2 linked regions of the Homo sapiens genome follow. Changing the gene in region 2 together with the main gene of any one other region gives a genetic interaction. Each region holds a gene or a part of one and is shown on either strand. Other genes may lie near its edges. The genes, in order: CREBBP and MYBL2.

What was found.
Region 1: of MYBL2 (region 2) and CREBBP, changing one enhances a phenotype caused by changing the other (phenotypic enhancement), as found in Homo sapiens cells (one study listed by BioGRID).

Annotation. Positions count from the first base shown.
Region 1 is NC_000016.10:3,730,406-3,734,215, forward strand, and holds part of CREBBP (CREB-binding protein), read right to left. Parts: intron 1,533-3,810; coding exon 1,371-1,532; intron 1,069-1,370; coding exon 787-1,068; intron 1-786. UniProt on the Homo sapiens protein: Acetylates histones, giving a specific tag for transcriptional activation. Mediates acetylation of histone H3 at 'Lys-18' and 'Lys-27' (H3K18ac and H3K27ac, respectively).
Region 2 is NC_000020.11:43,701,368-43,705,177, forward strand, and holds part of MYBL2 (myb-related protein B), read left to right. Parts: intron 1-1,122; coding exon 1,123-1,536; intron 1,537-3,810. UniProt on the Homo sapiens protein: Transcription factor involved in the regulation of cell survival, proliferation, and differentiation. Transactivates the expression of the CLU gene.

The sequences.
Region 1 (3,810 bases), on a different chromosome or scaffold from region 2:
AGCTATCCGCAGTGCACCAGTGGGACTTCCCCAACGCGCAAGCCCAAGTTACTGAAAACTGCTCGCACCTGGCAACCTGATGGAGCCCTAGGACCAGGTACCATGACTGTGTTCACAAAAAGATATGAAAACTGCCGCATTCAGAAACTAGAAAGAGGACAAAGGAGACTGGAGAAAGGTGGAAAGCGGAAGAAGTGTGTGAAGGTGGGGAGGGAAGAAAGGCCCTCGCTCTGCTGAGGACCCGCTCTGCCCCGCTACAGACACCACAGCAAGTGAGGAGGCTCCGGGTTGGCAGGTGATGGTGACTGTCCTGGGAGGGGGATGGTGGGATCTGTCACCTGCCTGCCCTGCACAGCCTGACTCGGCCCATGCAAGGGACACCCACGTCATTTCACAGGGGGGTCAAAATTCCTAGAGGGGAGTGAGGGAGCATGACCGGGGGGTCCTTCAGGAACAAGTGGCCAGAGGGGCCCAAGCTGCCAACAGGACAGCGGGTGTTTCCAGCCATTTAGCAAGACTAGAACTGGGCACAGACAGGCCAGACTTCCCAGCAGAGCCTCCCTCTGGCCGTCCCCAGGGTCAGGCCTGTGGCTGTGGCTACACAGAGCAGGTTTAGGAAACACACACACAGCAACGCCTTCTGCCTTGTGACGCTGTCCTAGTTCTGGAGGAGTCAGTGCAGCCACCATCAGGTACAGACACCAACCCGGGCACCCATGCAAAGGGACAGGATGCTTCGTCAGACCCCAGGCCGGCTGTGGGGGTGGGGGTGGGGGCAGGGCCTACCTCGCACACAGTGCAGTGCCAGCGCGTCTCCACGTGGTGCTTGCACTCGTTGCAGGTGTAGACAAAGCGGTCCTGGCCCTGGGTGTGCAGCTCCACCAGCATGCAGAGCGTGGACCACTTGGAGCGGCGCAAGGAGGAGAACTCCCAGTGCTTGTCTCTGGCGAGGGTGAGGAAGGCGTCGCGCCCATCCATGAGGTCACAGCTGAGCAGGGGGTCGGGGTCGACGATGGGGGGCAGGGTGTTGATGACAGGCCCAGCGTGCAGGTGGATCACGAAGAAGACCTGCAGGAGAGGAGGGGCTTTAGTCCCACACAAGGGACATGGCACCTCCAGTGGTGAGCTCAGGGCAGGCGCAGCCACCCAGCCTGCAGAATAGGCAGGTGGCTGAGCCTGATGGCCCTGATGCCTTGGGATGGAACAAAATTGGTGACACGTTGCATGATGTCACCCAACTGGTCCACTTGGTTTCCTGGGGGCCACTTCCCTCCCACCACAGACCTGCACACGGGCCCACGCCCGCCAGCTGCGAGTCTTTCCCTCCTCCCGGCCAGAGGCACGGCTGCAGCACCGCAGCCCACGCCTACCTCCTTGTGCTTCTCCATGGTGGCATACAGCTTCTGGGACAGGTCATTGGACACGTTGGGCATGCTGGGCTTCTTCTTGTTGGCGCGGCTGATGCTGCTTTTGTTCTTGTTGGTTTTCTTGTTGTTCTTCTTCTTGGCATTCTTGCTGTCGCCCTGACTGCCCTGCAACAACACGCAAGGCTGTGAGACCAGGCAAGTGCCCCTCCACACTTGGCACGGACGCCCAGCTCCCAGGCCGTGGGCATCAGGAAGCTCAGGCCAAAGTAGGTCACCACCAGGCAGACCCCATACGTGAACGGCTACAGGTGGCTGTAGGTGCTGCAGCCTTCGGGACAGAGCAGGGCCTGTCCTCGGCCAGGCTGGTGTCATTATCAGCTTTATGCCACGCTGCCTCTAAAGGGGAAAAGAGACCCAGAGTGCGAGTTCAGAAATTAACAAATGAGGGCAGTGGGGGCTGTTTCCACTGTGCCACAACCAGATGCGGAAGATTCCACGTCACAACTGTGGTCAGCAGCTGTCTGCCTTGAGGAAGGCTCTACACACCCGAGAAAGCATGAGAGCTTCCAGGAGACAGGAAAGCTGCTGATGGGAAAAGCAGCTGCCCCATCAAGAGCAGGGACTCTGAGGCCCCTGCGGGGTCCACTCAAGGCCCACGGAGAGCAGGCTGGCTCCCTGCTGGGGCCATCAGTGCTGCGCCTGACTGGCTGAAGGTGGGCTTGCTCTCAGCCCACAGGCTCCTCCTCTGGAAAGAACGCAGGATTACCACTCACTTACACTTTAACAGAGAGCTTTATTTTTTTTGAGAGACGGAGTTTTGCTCTTGTTGCCAGGCTGGAGTGCAGTGGTGTCATCTTGGGTTCAAGTGATTCTCCTGCCTCAGCCTCCTGGGTAGCTGGGATTATAGGCACCCGCCACCATGCCCGGCTACCTATCATTTTTTTTGAGACAGAGTCTCGCTCTTGTCACCCAAGCTGAAGTGCAATAACGCGATCTCGGCTCACTGCAACCTCTGCCTCCAAGGTTCAAGCGATTCTCCTGCCTGAACCTCCCTAGTAGCTGAGATTATAGGTGCTGCCACCACACCCAGCTAATTTTTGTATTTTTAGTAGAGATGGGGTTTCACCATGTTGGTCAGGCTGGCCTTGAACTCCGGACCTCGGGTGATCCGCCCGCCTGAGCCTCCCAAAGTGCTGAGATTACAGGCATGAGCCACCGTGCCCAGCCAGAGAGTTTCATTTTTAACAAGATGAGAGAGACTCTTGGTGTTCAAAGAGAGGGGTCAGTCCAGAGAGAATTCAACAATCCAGCCGGGCGGGGTGGCTCACACCTGTAATCCCAGCACTTTGGAAGGCCAAGGCAGGCGGATCTCGAGGTCAGGAAATCAAGACCAACCTGGCTAACACGGTGAAACTCCGTCTCTACTAAAAACACAAAAAATTAGCCAGGCGTGGTGGCGGGTGCCTGCAGTCCCACCTACTCGGGAGGCTGAGGCAGGAGAATGGTGTGAACCCGGGAGGCGGAGCTTGCAGTGAGCTGAGATGGCGCCACTGCACTCCAGCCTGGGCGACAGAGCGAGACTCCATCTCAAAAAAAAAAAAAAAAAATTCCCACCCCACCGACAAGCAGCCCGAGGAGCCCAAATATCACGTGGGTCCTCCGCAGGATTCAGAGACAGAAAAGGGACGTCAGGGGAAAACTGAGGAAATTGGAACGAAGTGTAGACTTAACAATAATGCATCAACATCAACAAATGGCTCACCGTGGCAGCAAATGTGCCACACTAAGGTAAGACATTAGTAACAGGAGAAACTGCGTGCTGCAATATACTGGAACTCTGTGCTCAATTTTTGTGTCAGCCTTAAAACAAAGGAAGCCTATTTTTTTTGAGATGGAGTCTCGCTCTGTCACCAGGCTGGAGTGCAGTGGCACAATCTTGGCTCACTGCAATCTGTGCCTCCCGGGTTCAAGTGATTCTCCTGCCTCAGCCTCCCAAGTAGCTGGGACTACAGGCGTGCGCCACCACACCTGGCTAATTTTTGTATTTTTAGTAGAGACGGGGTTTCACCATGTTGGCCAAGCTGGTCTCAAACTCCTGACCTCAAGTGATCCACCTGCCTTGGCCTCTCAAAGTGCTGGGATTACAGGCGTGAGCCACCACGCCCGGCCTGGAAGTCTATTTTTACAAAATTATAAAATAAATATGTTCATGAAATTAAGAAAATATAGACAAGTAATTTTAAAAAGTTTTGTTTTTCTGGTCTTCCCGAGCAGCAGTGTTCTGTGTTCTGGAGCTTTCCCTGGGCACATTTGTCTCCGTGTTTGCGACATTCCTCACGAAGCTGGGACTGCACACAGGGAGCTGGTTCCGTTTCTCGCCCCACCTGACACTATCGCGAGCCTTTCCCCATTTCCCAGAATTGACAGCATGATGCAGAGCAGA
Region 2 (3,810 bases):
CCACCCTTAGGAGTGAACTACCCCAGGGAACCAGAACTCGGCTTTAGTGTCTGGGTCCACTCAGAAGCCAGAACCCAAAGACCAAAGTGGAAGCCTCTGTGTCCAGAAGCCTTTTGGTTTGTGTTGTGATTTATTGGGTAAAGGAGGGAAAACCTGTAGTGACTCACGGGCTTGTTCTAGAAGCTGAGTGAGTAACTTTGGGAAGACCGAATCCCCTTAGCTCAGCTTCCTTGGTATGAAAGGGAAAGTAATGCTTCCCTAGCAGAATTGTGGGGATTGGAAATAACTTTTGTGAGCTGCCCCAAGGAGGCATCAATGATGAGTGACATCCCATTCACTGCTCTATATTTCGTTCTATAAAAATATCTGCAGGCTGGGTACTGTGGTTCATGTCTGTAATCCCAGCACTTTGGGAGGCTGAGGTGAGAGGATCACGTGAGCCCAGGAATTTGAGACCAGCCTGGGTAACACAGTGAAACACAGTCTCTATAAAAAATATTTTAAAAAATTAGCTGAAGCCGGGTGCAGTGGCTCACACCTGTCATCCCAGCACTTTTGGAGGCCAAGGTGGTCAGATCACCTGAGGTCAGGAGTTCGAGACCAGCCTGGCCAATATGGGTGTGGTGGCACACGCCTGTAGTCCCAGCTACTCAGGAGGCTGAGGCAGGAGAATTGCTTGAACCCGGAAGGCGGAGGTTGCAGTGAGCCGAGGTTGCACCACTGCACTACAGCCTGGGCGACAGAGCAAGTCTCTGTCTCAAAAAAAAGTAAAAAATAAAAAATTAGCCGAGAATGGTGGTACATGTCTGTAGTCCCAACTACTCGGGAGGCTGAGGCGGGAGGATCACTTGAACCCAGGAGTTCAAGCCTGCAGTGAGCTGTGATTGTGCTACTGTACTCCAGCGTAGGCAACAGAGTGAAACCCTGTCTCTTTAAAGAAAAGAAGAATCTATGAAAATATAGATGTATAGTCATAGAAAACTTTGAGGAAATGCATGAAATATTAATGATTGGTCCTGGGCTGTGGGATCATACTTGACACTTAAATATTTCCCGTAATGAATGAGTCCTCTTGTATTAAGAGCATAGTAATTGCAATTCCTAACCTCCCTCCCTGGACAGGACCCTGATGCTTGGTGTGACCTGAGTAAATTTGACCTCCCTGAGGAACCATCTGCAGAGGACAGTATCAACAACAGCCTAGTGCAGCTGCAAGCGTCACATCAGCAGCAAGTCCTGCCACCCCGCCAGCCTTCCGCCCTGGTGCCCAGTGTGACCGAGTACCGCCTGGATGGCCACACCATCTCAGACCTGAGCCGGAGCAGCCGGGGCGAGCTGATCCCCATCTCCCCCAGCACTGAAGTCGGGGGCTCTGGCATTGGCACACCGCCCTCTGTGCTCAAGCGGCAGAGGAAGAGGCGTGTGGCTCTGTCCCCTGTCACTGAGAATAGCACCAGTCTGTCCTTCCTGGATTCCTGTAACAGCCTCACGCCCAAGAGCACACCTGTTAAGACCCTGCCCTTCTCGCCCTCCCAGGTGCGTGGACCCCACTCTGGCTGCTTATTGGGTCGGTACAGACACCTAGTGTTCAGTGCTGGGGCAAGGGTGAGCAAAACGAGACCTGGCTCTGCCCTCATGCAGCTTATGCTCTGGTAGGAAGACCAGGTAACTAAAAAAGACTCAGAAAATGTGATAATCAGGATGAAAGAGAAGGCTTATGGTGCTGCATATGTGTATCTAGTCTGGGCAAGTCCAGGAAGACTGCCAGGAGGAGAAGGAGGATGCTGGTAACTGGGTAATGAAGGAGAGGAAGAGAACTGTCGTGTTTGTTCAGTCCACGTATGGAACCTATTTCACAGCAGACTTACCAGCACTGGGGAGCAAAGATGAAGATGATGGGTTGTCTCCAGCACTGGCTGGCCCTGCCTGGTCCTGGGAAGACCTGGGATAGCCAGTGCTGGGGATGGGCTTGTAATGAATTAACCAGAATAGAGTGTGGGAAGTGCCATGTGATAGCAATTGCGAAGTCACTGAGAACTCACTGTTCTGGGTGTTGCCCCTGGGTGCTCTGTTAGTAACACACAGAGCCTCGGGAGCCGGGATGGGTGCCAGGGTCTCTCTGAGATAGAGGTCATGGGGGGCACCTGGCCTTCCTGCAGAGAGGTGTCTGGGCTGGGTCTCCTTGAGCACCTTGACCAAAGGCACAGAAAAGGAAGGACAGAGTGGATGTGTGGAGTGGTGGGGGGTGGCGCAGGGCCTTGGTGGGCCTAGGTATAACTTAGGGCTTTGGCTCTCATTAGGTTTGTTCTTCCTGTGAGGCTGTGGGAGAGAGCGAGGCCCTGAGGTGGCCTGGTGCAGGAGGCCACCCTGTCATCACGGGTCAGGATGGCTAGTGGCATTTTGAGAGAGACCCTGTGTCGGTTTGCTCCGGCTGCTTAACAGAGTACCACAGGCTCGGTGGATTTGACAAGAAATTCAGCAGTGTTGGTTTCTACTGAGGCCTCTCTCCTTGGCTTGTAGATGCTGGCGGCTCCTGTGTCTTCACGTGGTCACCTGTGTCCTAATCTATTATTTTTTCTTGTAAAACCTCTTATTTTATAATGTTATAAGGACACCCGTTATTGGATTAGGGCCCACTCTAATGACTTTATTTTTTGAGAGTCGCTCTGTTGCCCAGGCTGGAGGCTGGAGGCTGGAGTGCAGTGGCATGATCACAGCTCACTGCAATCTCCACCTTCCAGGTTCAAGGAATTTTCCTGCCTCAGGCTCCTGAGCAGCTGAGATTATAGGCATGAGCCACCATGCCCGGCTATTTTTTTTGTATTTTTAGTAGAGACAGGGTTTCTCCAGGTTGGCCAGACTGGTCTCGAACTCTTGACCTCAAGTGATCCACCTGCCTCGGCCTCCCAAAGTGCTGGGATTACAGGCGTGAGCCACCGCGCCTGGCCTAACTAACCACTTTAAAGGCCCTATCTCCAAGTATTAATACAGTCCCATTCTGAGGTGCTGAGAGTTGGGACTTCAGGATGTAAATTTGGGGGAGACACAGGTCAGCCTGTAACATGCCGCAAGTGAGGGCTGCTGGCTGGAGAAGGAAGGCAGCGGGTCCCTCAGCTACTATTTGGGAAGCTCAGGATGATGGAGCGTGGTCGCTCTACTCCAGAGACCCCATTTAGGGTGGTGACCCTGAGGGTTGCAGATGGCTCTCTATTATAGCACCTTCAGGGCAGGGAGGGAAGAGAGCGGGGTGCTTCAAAGGATGGATGTTGGCTTAGATCTAGATTTCATTCTCACTTCTAGCACTCAGTGCAAGACTCAAAACCTCTCTAAGCGTTGGTTTTCTTATCTGTAAAAGGGGGATAGTAATAGTGCCTATGTCTCAGGATTTGTGGTAACTAATTGAAATTATTTGTGTGAAGTGCTTAGCACTGGCAAGAGAAGGTGCCCTCTAAATGATAACCCCACCGCCACCAGCACACTACAACTGTCACATGCCTTTTGCCTTCACAGGTCAGTTCAGAGCTAGTTTTATTTCTTCTGAGAAGGAGCCACTCTCCCACAGTTGGCTTCCTGTGCCTTAACTGCGTCGTCAGCACTCGAGTAGAGATGGCAAAAGCTAGGATTAGGGTGACGGAAGCCCAGAGGTCTGTGTGAACCTGCTTGGTGGGCTCCTGGCATCGATCTGTCCCAGTCCTTGTTCTCGGGTGTCTGATGGGTCAAGAGGGGACCTCAGTATCAGAGCAGACGTTTTGGGGGAGAGGCTCAAGGATCTCTCCCCATGATCCCCTGAGGTCTCAGGGATACTCATGC